Linked DNA regions of Homo sapiens: all the other regions are linked to region 1. The links come from fine-mapping of genetic effects on gene expression. A gene starts in region 1. Each other region holds a variant in brackets. All regions are shown on one strand. Distances are between the middles of the regions.

Region 1 (5,221 bases):
ACATAGCCAGGCTGGGACACGAAGGTCTGATGTCCCAGAAACACCAAACACTGGTACTGTCCCGTGTCGGAAAGCTGCAGGGAGGTGATTCTGACAGGGCAAGAGGAGAGACAGAGAGGTTCAGGGTCAGAGCTGGACACTGGGAGGGGGTCTGTCAGAACGGAAAGAGGGTGTCCAGTCTGGAAGCTCATGACAACCACGAAGTATGTCCTATTATTAACTCATTTTGCAGAAGAGGAAAACGAAACCTAGAGGTTCCATCACATGCTCAAAGCCGCACGGCTGACAAGTGGTCAAACTGGGGTTCCCACCCAGGTGGGCTTTCTGCCCTCTGTGTGACGGAGGTGGGAGTGGGATTCGGGGATGTGGCCACACACCTGAGCTGGCTGACCACTATCCAGTCATCCTGTTCATCCTCACCCAGGGGCACCTGGGTCTGGGTGCTGTCCGCGAGCTCCAGGATCTGTCCATCCCGAAGCCAATGTACCTCGGGGGGCTCTCCCTGAACCTGGAGCTGACACCGAAGGGTGCCCGTGAGTCCCCGGGCACCTGTGATATTCCCTGGGTTGCCCACGAAGGGACTTTCTTCAGCCTGCGTGCCTGGAGGGGAGATGGGAAGAGTTAGCTTAGGAACCCCCCAGCTCCTTCCGGCCCTCAGTTCCACCCTGTCCTTGCCTGCCCACCGGCGGCCAGGACCCCGCCAGGCCCTTAGGCCGACATAGTTGCAGAGTGACCTCAGAGTGGGGTGGAGGGCGGAGGCTCTGAGAGGAGGACGGGAGCCCTCCCAAGGGACTGGGATCTAGCGTCCATCCCGTCGGGAAGGAGGCTCGGGATCTGGCAGCCTCCCACGCCCTGCACTGCCTGGCAGGGCCAGCCCCTGCCCCCTCCGTCCTCTCTTAGGTCTCTAGAGACTTAACAGGTCGCGCTGGTGCTGGTGGATGGAGGGGAAGAATCAGGGGTTGGGGGAGAGAGATAAGGGTGGTGGTGGGGGGAGATAAGGGTGGTGGCGGAGGGAGAAGCCAGAGAAAGGCAGGGGAGATGAGACAGAGAGGAGCACAGATACAAGGCAAGACAGAAAAAATGAAGAAACAGCCCTCAAGAGAGAAGAAAAGGTGGGGGCGGAGGGGGGATACAGTCACAGAGGGAGGCTGAGAAGAGAGAGAGAGACTCAGAGAGCAGGGAGAGATAAAGGCAGAGACTGTGAAAGAGAGAGAAACAGAGACCCACAGAGATAGCAGAGCTGGAGGCAGAGACAGAGAGACAAAGTGAGAGCCTCCTCCCCAGAGATGGAGTGGACTGGTGGGGTAGGGACAAGTGGCGGGTCAGGGGGGTGGTGTTGGCAGGGAGAAGCGTTTTCCCCCAGGGCTCCAGAGCCCTCCTCATCCCACTGCCTGACTCGGTGCCCCTTCGGAAAGATTTCTTCCTTCCTGGCGACCCTCAGCTCAGCCCCTCTCCCCATGGCCCCCTTCTCAGGTCCAGCCCCCACCCCTGCCCTCAGCTTCTCCTTGTCTGTCTGTCTCTCCGGGTCCTCTCTTCTGTCCCCCCTGCCCTTCAGTTCCTCTCTCAGTCTTTCTCTCCCTCTGCCGCACTTGGTGTCTCTGAGTCTGTGTCTCCCTCCCTTGAAGTCCCTTTTCTGTGGTCCCAAGGAAACTCCCTAAGCCAGCCCAGGCCCCCCACACCTGCCATCATCCCCCACCTCCTACCCCTGCCCCAGCCCCTCCGAGGGGATCCCTGCCCCAAGGAGCCCCCATCACTCACCCCTGGGGGCCATGCACGCCCAGCCGCACAGCGCCAAGCACCAGGCCAGCGGGACCCTGCCCATCCTGGGGCACCGCCACGCCATGGGTGCCAAACTTTCCTCAGAAGTTGTTGGGCTCCCAGCGGGGGAGGGGGCAGGGCCGGGCTGTCCCCGGCCCTCCCCCCAGCTCCAGGCTCCCCGGATTTGGCACTGCCTGCCTGGCACAGCGGCAGGGGAGGCCCTTGCCACCGGCTCTGCCCAGCAGCCGCCTTCTCAGCACCCCTGCCTCCTTCCCTCACTCCCAGACTTGGGCAACCCTTTCTCCGCCCCTGGCTCCCCCTTTGCCTCCGCCCACCAGGGCCAGAGCCCAGGGGCCACCTGGACAATCAGGGGTTAACTCAAGAGAGGAGAGGATCAGCTCTTTCTTAAAGGGGCCAGGGAGGGAGCTGAGGAGGGGGAAGGGGACCCTGGTGGCTGTGCCCCCTGTCCTGAGCCAGTGAGGCCGTGTCTCTCTATCCGGGCTCTGGGCGCTGTCCCTCTGGGCTCTGTGTCTGGTAAACATTCCTCCAGAACTCCACTCCCCTCTCAGCTCAGGCCGTGACGCCCCTCTCCCCGCCTCCACCCCCAGCCCAGCCCCAGCCAGGCCTCCTTGGCCCTTCATTCCCCCTCACTCTCTCGGCTCCTCGGACAAGGACACACACACACACACACACACGCACGCACGCACGCACGCACACACACTCTTAGACGTCACTGACACACACAGGCTAGGACAAGCAGAGACACGCAGAGGGACCCAGACGGGCAGGGGCATGCTACTGGCCCACAGACACACTCAGACAAGCCAGGCCAGGAGCTCGATTCCTGGAGAAACCTCAGAGACAGGAGGACACGGCTGGGTGGGCATCCATGGGGGACACTTACTTGGGGAGACACAGATCTTCAGACACGCCAAAACCTGCATGGACGCCTAAATGGGACACCAAATACAGGCGACATGAAGGGGACCCAAGTTGGAATCCCAGTGCTACCACTAACTGTGGGCTACAGGCAAGTGACTGGCCTCCTGAGCCTCAGTTTGTCCATCTGTAAAATGGGAATAAGAATAGTTGTTGGCCGGGCACAGTAACTCACTCCTGTAATCCCAGCACTTTGGGAGGCCAAGGTGGGAGGATCGCTTGAGCCCAGGAGTTCGAGACCAGACTGGTCAATGCACTGAGACCCCCATCTCTACAAGAAGTTTAAAAATTAAAACTTAACCAGGTATCATGGCGTGTGCCTGTGGTCCCAGCTACTAGGGAGGCTGGAGTGAGAGGAACGCTTGAGTCCAAGAGATCGAGGCTGCAGTGAGCCCTGATCATTCCACTGCTCTCTCCTTCTGGTGGGACTGTGTGTCCTGGTTATTGCAGATCTGCTGCCTGCGTATCGGCTCTGCTGCACTTCCATTCCTCGGCCCTGTGTGTTTGGCACGTGGAGGGCTCTGCATGCCTGGATGTCTGTGAGGAGGAGGCTGGGCGTCTATCCCTCTGCTCTTGGCCACCTGTGTTTGGGTACTGGTATACCTACGGTGCATCATAAAGTCCTATCTGTTTGGCCTCCTGATGTCTCTTCTACCTGCCCCTTCCCAGCACCCCCGTCTGATCCTGCCTTCTCCTGCCTCTACTGTCACTCCTTTCTCCCATTTAGCAACCAGAGGACTGTTTCTGAAAGTCAAATCCTACCCTGTCCCTTCTCTGCTTGCCCATGGCCTCCTGCTGCCCTCAGGGCAAGCTCCCAGCTCCTTGTCACTGGCCACTTAGGGCCCTTCACCGTTGTCTCCCTGGGCTGTGTCTTTTTTTTTTTTTTTTTTTTTGAGACCCAGTCTTGCTTTGTTGCCCAGGCTGGAGTGCAATGGCTCGATCTCGGCTCACTGCAACCTCCATCTCCTGGGTTCAAGTGATCCTCCCACCTCAGCTTCCTGAGTTGCTGGGATTACAGGTGTGCACCACCATGCCAGGTTAATTTTTGTATTTTTGGTAGAGACGGGGTTTCACCATGTTGGCCAGGCTGGTCTGGAACTCCTGAACTCGTGATCTGCCCGCCTCGGCCTCCCAAAGGGCTGGGATTACAGGCGTGGGTCACTGTGCCCGGCCATGGGCTGCTGGCTTCTGTTGCTCCTTCCAACCTGTCTCCCACTCAACAGTCAGAAGGCTTCTTCCCAATCTCAAACCAAACCCTTTCCCACCTCTGCCCCAAACCTTTCAGCAGAACCCTAAACTCCTTATGTTTCTGTGACCCTCCCCTCGCCTCCCCAGGCTTCTCTCGCTTTCTCACCCAAAGAGCCCCCTCAGAGGACTTGGAGCAACCTCCTGCAGCACTTTGTCCCCAACTCTATCATCCCTTCTCCATCGCATCACTGCCTGGCCCCCCCAGCCCAATCTAGGTCCTCATATTGTTCACTCCCAACATGCTGTCCCTTTCCTTGGCAACACTTTGCCTGGGTTGTCATTATATATTTATTGGCATGATTATGTGTCTCACATCTGTCTCCTCCCACTGGCCTGTGGGCTCTGCGGGGGAAGGGACTGGGTATATTTTGGGAACTGCTGCATCTTCACCGCCCTGTAAAAGGCCTGCCATAAAGGGGACAATTCCTTATTGTGGCATTTTTTTTTTCTTGAGACAGAGTCTCACTCTGTCGCCCAGGCTGGAGTGCGGTGGCTGTATCTTAGCAGACTGCAAACTCCACTTCCCAGTTCAAGCATTCTGTCTTCTTGCTCTGTCATCCAGACTGGAATGCAGTGGCGCCATCATAGCTTGCTGAAGCCTCAAACTCCTGGGCTTATGTGACCCTCCTGCCTCAGCCTCCCCGAGTAGCCAAGACTATGTGTGCAAGCACACCTGGCTAATTTTAAAAAACTGTTTTAGGGGCCAGACGTGGCTGCTCAAGCCTGTAATCCCAGCACTTTGGGAGGCCGAGGCGAGTGGATCACGAGGTAAGCCTGGCCAATCATTCCACCTGGGCCTCCTAAAGTATGGGATTATAGGCGTGACCCACTGCGTGACCCACTGTGTGATCCACTGCACCCAGCCCGATCTCTTTTTTTCTTTTTGGTTGGGGAGATGGTCTCTCGCTGTCACCCAGGCTGGAGTGCAGTGGCGCAATCCGGGCTCACTGCAAACTCCAACTCCCAGGTACAAGAGATTCTCCTGCCTCAGCCTCCTGAGTAGCTGGGACTGCAGGAACTACCGTAATGCCTGGCTAATTTTTGTATTCATAGTAGAAATGGGGTTTCACCATGTTGGCCAGGCTGGTCTCAAACTCCTGACCTCAGGTGATGTGCCTGCCTCGGCCTCCCAAAGTTCTGGGATTACAGGTGTGAGCCACCACGCTCGGCCTATTGTGGCATTTTTGAGGGGTGCAAATATGTGCAAAGATCTGTTCACTTGTTTAGATATGTTGGGGGGCCCCTGCCCACCCTAGGGCTCAGTGGACCCAGCTGG
Region 2 (5,221 bases), 50 kb before region 1:
CACTAAGAAAAGGCACTGGGAGGCCACAACACAGTAAAAGCAGCACAAAACTGGGGGTCAGTCCGGGCTCCATCAGTTCTCAATAGTGGGACCCTGCTTTCCAAATAGTAAGGCACAAATGATAAGGAATGCTGCTTATTAACCAAGAGGACTAGCCTGGGAGCAAGTATGCTAGGTTGTAGCCCCAGCTCTGCCATCGGACAAGCCAACTCCTCAATCTATAAAATGGGGAGGAGAGGCCAGGCGCAGTGGCTTACACCTGTAATCCCAGCACTCTGGGAGGCCGAGGCAGGCAGATCATGAGGTCAGGAGATTGAGACCATCCTGGCCAACATGGTGAAACCCCACATCTACTAAAAACACACAAAAAATTAGCTGGGTGTGGTGGCACGCCCGTAGTCCCAACTACTTAGGAGGCTGAGGCAGGAGAATCACTTGAACCTGGGAGGCAGAGGTTGCAGTGAGCCAAGATCACACCATTGTACTCCAGCCTGGGCAACAGAGCGAGACTCCATCTCAAAAAAAAAAAAAAAAAAAAGGGAAGGGAGAGTTGGCATCATGGGGAACTTTGTTCTGTAAAGACATATACTTAACATGATTGGGAAATCCTAAGTTTAAACGATACAACACAAGGTTTTTTGTCTATTTTTTTATTAAAAAAAATATTTTCAGCAACACCAGCCCAAGAAGACACAAGGTTTTTAAATTTAATTAAAAAAAAAATTTTTTTGGAGACAGAGGCTTACTGTTGCCCAGGCTGGAATGCAGTGCTGCCATCATGGCTCATGGAGCCTCAACTTCCTAGCTCAAGTGATCCTCCCACCTCAGGGTCCAGAGTAGGTGGGACTTGGCCGGGTTCAGTGGCTCACGCCTGTAACCCCAGAACTTTGGGAGGCTGAGGCGGGCGGATCACCTGAGGTCAAGAGTTTGAGACCAGCCTGGCCAACATGGTAAAACCCCGTCACTACTGAAAATACAAAAATTAGCCAGGTGTGGTGGCAGGCGCCTGAAATCTCAGCTACTTGGGAGGCTGAGGCAGGAGAATCGCTTGAACCCGAGAGGCGGAGGTTGCAGTGAGCTGAGATCGCGCCATCGCCCTCCAGCCTGGGGAACAAGAGCGAGACTTCGTCTCAAAAAAAAAAAAAGAGTAGCTGGGGCTATAGGATTGTGCAACCATGCTCAGGTAATATTTTTATTTTTTATAGAGACAGGGTTATGTTGCCCAGGCTGGTCTTGAACTCCTGGACTCAAGCAATCCTCCCACCTCAGCCTCCCAAAGTGTTGGGATTACAGGCATGTAACAGCCATCGCACTCGGCCTGTTTTTATTTTTAAGGCAAGGTCTTCCTGTCGCCCAGGCTGCAGTGCCGTGCACGATCATAGCTTACTGCAGCCTTGAACTCCTGGGCTCAAGTGATCCTCCTGACTCAGTCTTCTGAGTAGCTGGGACTACAAGCATGTCACCATGCTCAGGCAATTTTTAATTTTTTCTAAAGACAACAGGGGTCTCACTATGTTGCCAGGCTAGTCTTGGATTCCTAGGCTCAAGTGATCCTCCTGACTTGGCCTCCTAAAGCGCTAGGATTACAAGCATGAGCCACTGTGTTCTAACCTACTTTTAATTTTAGGTTTTTTTTTTTTTTTTTTTTTTTCGTGACAGGGTCTTGCACTGTCACCCAGGCTGGAGTGTAGTAGTGTAATCATAGCTCACAGCAGCCTCAAACTCCTGGGCTCAAGTGATCCTCCTACCTTTGTCTCCTGAGTAGCTTTAACTATAGGTGTGTGCATGTAGTCAGTCATAGCCATGCCTGGCTAATTTTTAAATTTTTTGTAGAGAAGGGGTCTCACTATGTTGCCCAGTCTGGTCTGGAACTCCTGGTCTCAAATGATCCTACTACCTTGGCCTCCCAAAGTGTTGGAATTATAGGTATGAGCCAGCGCACCTGGCCTGAGGCCTGACACACACTTTCTTTTTTTTTTTTTAAATTCTGGACTTCTCAGAGCCTTTAATGTTCTAACAAGCACAGTGAATTTCCAAGAGACGATATAGCACATGCTACAGTTTCCAGACACATTTGGCTAAGGAACCCTTTTCTGAGAATCCCCTAATAATATCCCCTGAAACAATAATCTTCAGAACATGAGAAATACCAGATTAGACTTAGAAGGCTCTTTCTGGCTCCCCCATTCTAAGATTCTAAATAAGATTCA[A/C]GTATTAGTCTAGGGGTCTCAACTCTCCAGGGTGCTTATACTAACATCTTTTTTTTTTTGAGATGCAGTTTCACTCTTGTTGCCCAGACTGAGTGAAGTGCAATGACGCGATCTCGGCTCACTGCAACCTCCGCCTCCTGGGTTCAAGTGATTCTCCTGCCTCAGCCTCCCAAGTAGCTGGGATTACAGGTGCCTGCCACCATGCCTGGCTAATTTTTGTATTTTTAGTAGAGACGGGTTTCACCATATTGGCCAGGCTGGTCTCGAACTCCAGACCTCAGGTGATCCACCTGCCTCGGCCTCCCAAAGTGCTGGGATTACAGGAGGGAGCCACCACACCCGGCTGATACTAACATCACTTTTTTACAGATACCATGGAACCTCCCCTCTCCCAACACTTGGAAATAGGACTGAGATCTTTCCTTTAAACAATTCTTGCCAGAGTGACAATGTTTAGATGAACTGCCCAAGAAAAAAGATGCACAGTTTCTCTGGGAAGACCCGCTCTAAGCAGGGGGTAAAGGCTCCATGTAGATTGTTTCCATCCAAAGAGATGAACCATGTGTATTTTCCTACCTGGACGATAGGCCTGCTGCTGCTCCATTTCCAGTGGTCTCCTCTCGTAGCCTGACTCGTTTTCTTGTTTGATGACTTGGGTATCGTAGAATTGGTTCTGCCTGGTAATATTGTCCATGGCATCTTAAAACAAAATTAAAAATGGCCAATTAGAGGGGCGGTTCATGAAGAACCCTGGACCAAAGCATCCAGAAGGCATCTGCAGGTCCAGGAGCTCAACTAAGAGTGGTAAGAATAATAATATTAACTATTCATGGCATGCATACTATACTCCAGAGCCTGGGATACAGCTGAAGACAAGCTTGCCCCACTGAAGCCTTCAGTTTAGTGAGACAGACAAATCTTAAAGACACACAAAAATTTAATATGATTGTGTTGAAGGCTACAAAGTAGTACCAGGAATGAAGAAAGGGACCTGGAAAATAACAGATAAGCCTTGATTCAAAGGATACACAGGTAATGACTCAGTGATGAGAATGGAGAATGTTACTGGGGTTGGGATAACACGTGTGAAAGCTCAGAGGTGGAACTAAAACCAGAAATTCCCTCAAGAACCTTGCAGCCAAACCCAGAGAGAACTTTAGAAAGCTAGGATGGGCAGCATACAGGCTCTCCTCCCCAGGGGCTAGCTCTCAGTTAGGGCCCCAAGGGCCCTACCAGTGGCTATGCCAGGAGCCGTGAGCCAGAACCAAAGGGAAGGAGAGACTATTCTGCCACTTGCTAACTGATCGGATTCCTTCTCAGAGGATAAATACATCTGGGCACAAACCAGGTGCAGCCCAAAGGGAGGAAAGTCACAGGTCATGTGGTTTGCTACCGGTCTGTTTACCAAGGTTGAAGGAGGGCTTAAGGGAGGCATGAAGGGGGCTCAAAGGACTTTGTTGTAGCAAGTAAGGGAGAGAGGAAGAAATAGCATTATCTCCTTAATTGGAATATGGGGCCCTTTCAAACTATTCTGCTGCTTCCAGGCTCCAAGCACAATGCTCCTCTTCCCACAAAGCCTCTTTTCCCCAGCATCTCTCTCCTGTGTTCACAGAGGCAGCCCCTCCTGGAGAAGCTATAATTCTAGGGTCCTTCTCCATTCTCTAAAACATCCCTCTTCTCATAAAAGGCAGGCCCAGTGATAAGCCCTTCACATGTGATCTCATTCATAACACCCCTCAGGGGTTGGAGGGGCTGTGAACACACTATTTGTTGATTAACCCCATTTTACACATTAAGGAAACCAGGCCCACAGAGGTGAAGTGACTTGCCAATATCTTTAAGCCAGATTTGAAACGAAGTCTGTCTTAGTCTAGAGTCTACGCTCCAAAGCACCTAATTCGCTTTCCTCTCAGAGATGACTCTCTGCCCAGACCACCAGGTCACTACTAACCCACTACCCTTTCTTGCTAGGCATTCCTGCCACGATCCCTCCTGCTCTAGACACACACACAGGCCCACTCCTTTCTTCACAAGTCTCTGCAATGGGAAGTCCTCTTTCCAGCACCTGGGTCCTCGATAATCTCTAGGCCACTGCCTACCCCAAATCCACACTCCTCCCTCCGGGAAATTCTCTTATGAACAAGTATCCAATTCCAACCCCAAATCCTGTCTCTTCTGTTACCTCATTTCTCTCCTTATCCCCTTAGCCCCAAGTCCCAGGGTGCCCTCTTTTCAGAAAAACTCCACAAACTCTTACGCCAGAATCCCTTCTACTTACTCCTTAACCTTTCCAGTCCCCCCATTTCCCAGTCCTACTAGAAAGCTGCCCTGAGGCCTGGTGCAGTGATTCACGCCTGTAATCCCAGCACTTCAGGAGGCCGAGGTGAGATCACCTGAACCCAGGAGTTCAAGACCACCCTGGGCAACATAGCGAGACCCCCCATCTGTATTTAAAAAAAAGAGAAAGAAAGCTGCTTTTTTCTTTTTTGAGACGGAGTTTCACTTTTGTTGCCCAGGCTGGAGTGCAATGGCGTAATCTCGGCTGACTGCAACCTCCCCCTCCCAAGTTCAAGCGATTCTCCTGCCTCAGCCTCCCGAGTAGCTGGGACTACAGGCGCACACCACCAGATCCGGTTAATATTTGTATTTTTAGTAGAGACAGGGTTTCACTATGCTGGCCAGACTGGTCTTGAACTCCTGACCTCGTGATCCGCCCGCCTCGGCCTCCCAAAGTGCTGGAATAACAGGCGTGAGCCACTGCACTCGGCCCGAAAGCTGCTTTTTTTCTAACTGAAGATTCACGCCGTCCCATATCAGGTTTTCCTCTCCTCAGACAACCGCAGGTCTACCCGAACCCATTCCCAGAGTCACAGCTCCTGGCTGATGAAGAGTTCCGTGCTGCTCCCCGAGGGCCCCCACTCCCTGGGTACACAAATAACTGCTTCTGGGAACCGTCGAGATTTCTCCTGGAGACGCTCAGGTCCAGAAACATTCCCCACACTCCACTCTGA
Region 3 (5,221 bases), 21 kb before region 1:
GTGGAATGGGAGGGAGAGATGTGTGGAACGCGTTATGAGTGTGCCAAGAGGGCTAGATGAACATGAGATGGGTGTGGAGAAATCTCAAGCAGCATAGGTTAGTGTGAGAAATGTGATGATTGTGCAAGAAGGGTGGACTAGAGTGTAGATAAGCAGGTGAGTGGGGAAGAAGATCCTTGCAGTGTAGGATGGTGCATGAAGCGTGTGCAAGGAGGGCGGACTAAGGAACATCTTTTGAAGAGAATGCAATGACTACAAAAGGGTTTTCTTTGTCTCTTTTTTTGTTTGTTTGTTTTTTGAGACAGGGTCTCACTCTTTCACCCAGGCTGGAGTGCAGTGGCCCGGTCTCAGCTCATTGCAACCTCTGCCTCCCAGTTTCAAGCAAATCTCCTGCCTCAGCTTCTAAGTAGCTGGGATTACAGGTGTGCACCACCATGCCCAGCTAATTTTTGTATTCTTTTTTTGGTAGAGACAGGGTTTCACCATGTCTCCTGAGTAGCTGGGACTGCAGGTCTGTGCCACCTGGCTAATTTTTTTTTCTTTTCTTTTTCTTTTCTTTCTTTTTTTCTTTCTTTCTTTCTTTTTTTTTTTTTTTTGAGACAGAGTCTTGCTGTGTTGCCCAGGCTGGAGTATAGTGGCATGATCTTGGCTCACTGTAACCTCCGCCTCCCAGGTTCAAGCAATTCTTGTGCCTCAGCCTCCCGAGCAGCTGGGATTACAGGCTCGCACCACCAGGCCCAGCTAATTTTTGTATTTTTAGTAGAGATGGGTTTTCGCCAATGTTGGCCAGGCTGGTCTTGAACTCCTGACCTCAGGTGATCCACCTGTCTCAGGCCTCCCAAAGTACTGGGATTACAGGCGTGAGCCATTGCACCCGGCCACAATGGTTTCCATAAAGCCAGGAATGAGGGTGAAATAAATATCCAAAGGGGCATGGTAAGCATATACAGGGTTGGATGGCTGCTGGAAAAGTTGGGGGTGTGTGAAGTGGGAAGAGTATTCGTGAAGTCTTAGATACAAGGAGTGAGCAAGGAATTTTAAGGATGTAATTGCAGTGTGAGAGAAGTGTGCAGTGAGCATGCAAAAGATGTTAGAAGGGCAGATGAGAAGTATGGGGTGCACAGAAAGGGGGTGTAAAAAGGGCAGGGGTGGAATGGAGTGTGTAAGAAATAAAGATCATTATGTGCTGAGTATGCAAGGGGTTCAGGGTGAGTGTGCAGAGTGAGATGGGTTGGGATTAGTGAAGGGTGAGGGAATGATGTCTATGGAGTGTGCAGTAAGCATGCAAGGAGAATCGGGTGTGGGAAAGTTGTGGACAATGTTTTTCAGTGTTTGCAATGTGGAAGGTATGGTAAGTGCATACAAGGTGTGCAGAGTTTGTGAATGAGAAGTGTGTTGTGCAATGGGCCTTTGGGGTCATGTGGGAGGAACGGATTATAATGGGATATATGTGAAAGGAGGGTGGAATAAGCGTGGAAAGCGTATGTGAAGAAATGTAGGAAGGGATGTGAGGAGTATTGAAGGCTAGTGGGTTGAGTTACAAGAGTGAACCATAATAGTGCCCAGAGGGGACAATGGGTGTAGGAGGAATGTTTGAGAATTGTTAGAGAAATATTTGAGAGGGATGGATGTGAGGAGGATACCTCATTCATCCATCCATCCACCTTTCTACCCATCCATTCATCCACTCACAAATCCATCCATCTGTCCATCCATCCATTTATCCAACCATCCATTCATCCATCCATCCATCCATCCATCCACCCATCTACCCATCCATATATCCACTCACCACCCAGTCATCTTTTGTTCATCCACCTATCCACCCATCTATTAATCCATTGACCCACCCACCCATCCACCCTCCATATATCCAACCATCCATCCATCCACCCTCCATATATCCACCCACCCATCCATCCACCCATCCATCTACCCATCCATTTATCCACTCACCATCCAGTCATTTATCTGTTCACCCACCTATCCACCCTCTATTCATCCATTGGCCCACACACCCATCCATTCTCCATATATCCACCCATCCATCCATCCACCCATCCATCTACCCATCCATTTATCCACTCGACATCCAGTCATTTATCTGTTCACCCGCCTATCCATCCTCTATTCATCCATTGACCCACCCACCCATCCACCCTCCATATATCTATCCATCCATCCATCCATCTATTTGTTCATCCATCCACCCACTCATCTGTCATTGCCTGAATACCTACAATGTGCTATGCTAGGCCATTATAGGCACCTCCATCAAGGACCACACAAACTCAAGAAGTAGGTTAGAGTGATGAGTTAGAGAAACATGAAAGGGATGTGCAATGAGTATGCATGGTGACAGTGCCCCCACTAGGTGTTGAGGGTAGGGAAGGAGGAGATGGGGTGTGGAAGCCCTTACCCAGCTGGTGGACTGGCTGTGCTTGCCCTGTGAGAAGAAAGGACAGAGAGGAGATGTGCTCAGAGAGGACAAGACTGGCGTGGCACGGGTAAGGGAGTAAGGGTGTGGCACGGGTAAGGGAGTGAGGGTGTGGCACGAGTAAGGGAGTGAAGGTTTGGCACGGGTAAGGGAGTGAGGGTGTGGCA[C/T]GGGTAAGGGAGTGAGGGTGTGGCACGGGTAAAGGAGTGAGGCCGTGGCACAGGTAAGGGAGTGAGGGGTTGGCATGGGTAAGGGAGTGAGGGCAGCTCTCAGTAAGGCTCAGGGTAGGAACAGGGCCTAAGTTGCGGTAACACTGAAAGGTACAAGGAGTAAGTCAGGGCTGTCAGGGAGAGACAGGGTTGAAGCAGGTTGGGCATGGCTTTGGACTTACCTGGGCGCCAGGCCTCCAGGGGTACTGGGAGGCTCCAGGGTCCATCCCCAGCAGCAGTGTAGGCTGCCACACACACTGTCAGATTGGACACAGACCCGTCCCCCTGCAGCTCCAGGGTCACCTCTTGCCTTAGCCCTATGTCCATTAGCACCTAGGAGGTCCAGAAGTGGCATCAGGGTAGAACCTTACCCCCCAGCTGTTAAGCCTTCACTCTCGGGCTCAATGCCCCATCTCTTTCTCAAAACGCTCTCCCCATCCTCCAACTCCTCATCCTTCCTCGTCCTCCCCTTCATCTCTCATCCTCATCCTTTAACCTGTATCCCTCCATCCCCTTCTAGCTTCCCTTTCCATCCTCCCTCCCTATGTCAGGGTATTGCTAGCCCTGATAGGAGTGCCTTTGTGAAAATCAGGAAAAGGTACCCCTTCCCCAAGGTGCTATATAACTATCTGCTGTAAAATCGTTATATAGTAAATATGAGTCTGCTGAAATGCTTTTGCAGTGGTTCAAAAACAGCCATTCCCCATGCCCTCCCTTAGACCCCCTTATTCTCCCCAGAATGTGAATGTGAACCTTCCCTGAATGTGCCCCCTAGGCATAGAGCAATTGTGTACTACCCAACCTTCACAACCATCTATGTCTGCCCTGATATGTTCTCCTCCCTCCTCCCCAAGCCACTCCACTCCAATCCCACCAGCAGCACCCACCTCTGGGGTGTCCTGGCCTTGATACGCCAGCCGGTACCCTAACAGGGTACCCTGCAGGGGCGCCCGGGGCTCTTGCCAATGCACGAAGGCCTGGCTCCCATTCCGCGTAGCACTAATGTTCTCAGGGGGGCCCAGGGGCACTGGAGGACAGGGAAGAGGGGAAGCTGGCACCCCCACCTCTTCCTGACCCCCTCCCCTGTTCCCAGGAAGTGGGTGCAGGGTGCCAAGGGCACACACGTGGGCAACTCGTGCAGGCCTCCCATGAGAGGAAGCACAGGGGAGAGAAGGGCTGGGAGAGAGGCCAGCGGGCAGTGCTGCTGAGGGGTCAGAGATTGGATGGGAAGGAGATTGAGGCCATGAGGGGTAAAGGAGTGAAAGGGGACAATGGGGGTGGCACTGATATAAGCAAGGTCCGGTGGGGCAGTGGTGACGTGTCCCTCCCCAACCCTTCTTACCTCCCTCCGGCGTCTCCACAGGAAGCCAGTGGGTCCAGGATGAGGGGCCCTGGCTGCTGGTGCATGCCACGCGGATGTGATAAGGGGTGTGAGGATGGAGGCTGCCTAGCCGAAGCTGATGGGGGGGCACGGATGCTTGCGAGGTGAGGGGCTCCTCTGGGGGGTCTGGTTCTCCCGCCTGGATGCCCATCCCATCGTCTGACAGCACAGCCTGAGGAGAGGCAAGGGTGTGAGGACGGGACAGCCAAGCAATCACACGAGATGGTCACACAGCTCCCAGTGGTGGTGGTCTGGTGTGACTACACAACTTTTCAAGGGTGCGTGTGTGTTGCAGTGCCATGCTAGGATAACACGGGCACCTGGATTTGCAAAGCAAGGAGATCATTTGGCTGTATACAATGTGGTTCTGTCACCACTTCCAAAAGCCACCTCTGGCAAGACTCTTCCCTCTCTGAGCCTCAGTTTTTTCCTTGGGCACACGGGGCCTTAGAGGATCAAGTGCCTTACAGGATTGTTTAAAGATTAAGTGTAGTTATGCCCAAAGGATGCCACAGTGCATGGCGGGTGGTCAGCACCGATAATAATAGTGTGATGACAATAATAACGCAAATAGACTGGGCACGGTGGCTCCCGCCTGTAATCCCAGCACTTTGGGAGGCCAAGGTGGGCGATCACTTGAGGTTAGGAGTTCAAGACCAGCCTGGCCAACGTGGTGAAACCCCATCTCTTCCAAAAATGTAAAAAATTAGCTGGATGTGGTGGCGCTCGCCTGTAATCCCAGCTACTCGGGAGGCTGCGATAGGAGAACCACTTGAACCTGGGAGGCAGAGGTTACAGTGAGCTAAGATCACACCACTGCACTCCAGCCTGGGTAACAGAGCAAGACTCTGTCTCAAATAATAGTAATGATCATCATAATAATAGCACGATACTGTGAGGCCCCATTTATATGACATTATACTACAGGCAAAAGCAATGTTCTAGAAGCAGAAGGGTGGCCATCTCTGGGGCCTGAGGGAGACTTCTTGGGGACTGGAAGGGTCTGTGTCTTGATTTGGATGGTGGTTACATGGTGAATATGTGTGTTAAACAATCTCAAAGGTGTCCAATCTTTTGACTTTCTTGGACCACAGTGGAAGAAGAATTGTCTTGGGCCACACATAAAATACGCTAACACTAACGATAGCTGATGCGTTAAAAAAAAAAATCACAAACAAATCTCATAATGTTTTAAGA

Which allele goes with the higher level. Alleles are on the strand shown, and positions count from the first base shown. SD is a standard deviation of normalised expression in the study named. Not every link is listed here.
As copies of C replace T in region 3, the expression in monocytes after LPS of the gene that starts at base 2,013 in region 1 goes down (moderate effect, 0.41 SD a copy in Quach 2016).

The links. PIP is the estimated chance that this variant, and not a neighbour inherited with it, causes the effect. A credible set is the group of variants that fine-mapping cannot tell apart.
Region 2: its variant is the best candidate, but not a certain one, in a credible set for the expression of AXL in thyroid (GTEx, PIP 0.66).
Region 3: its variant is the best candidate, but not a certain one, in a credible set for the expression of AXL in monocytes after LPS (Quach 2016, PIP 0.54).

Annotation. Positions count from the first base shown.
Region 1 is chr19:41,216,015-41,221,235 of GRCh38, reverse strand. AXL (AXL receptor tyrosine kinase) reads right to left here and starts at 2,013. Exons shown (of 20, transcript NM_021913.5): 1 at 1,759-2,013; 2 at 378-600; 3 at 1-90. The coding sequence starts at 1,843. RefSeq lists a silencer at 2,300-2,439 and an enhancer at 2,048-2,872.
Region 2 is chr19:41,265,911-41,271,131 of GRCh38, reverse strand. It overlaps HNRNPUL1 (heterogeneous nuclear ribonucleoprotein U like 1), which reads right to left. Exons shown (of 15, transcript NM_007040.6): 2 at 2,787-2,909. Among named protein-coding and RNA genes, the nearest start is that of HNRNPUL1, 4.1 kb to the right of the region's middle. The variant A/C (reference allele first, on the strand shown) is at 2,211.
Region 3 is chr19:41,236,919-41,242,139 of GRCh38, reverse strand. It overlaps AXL (AXL receptor tyrosine kinase), which reads right to left. Exons shown (of 20, transcript NM_021913.5): 7 at 3,986-4,196; 8 at 3,531-3,670; 9 at 2,826-2,976; 10 at 2,420-2,446. Among named protein-coding and RNA genes, the nearest start is that of AXL, 20 kb to the right of the region's middle. The variant C/T (reference allele first, on the strand shown) is at 2,605.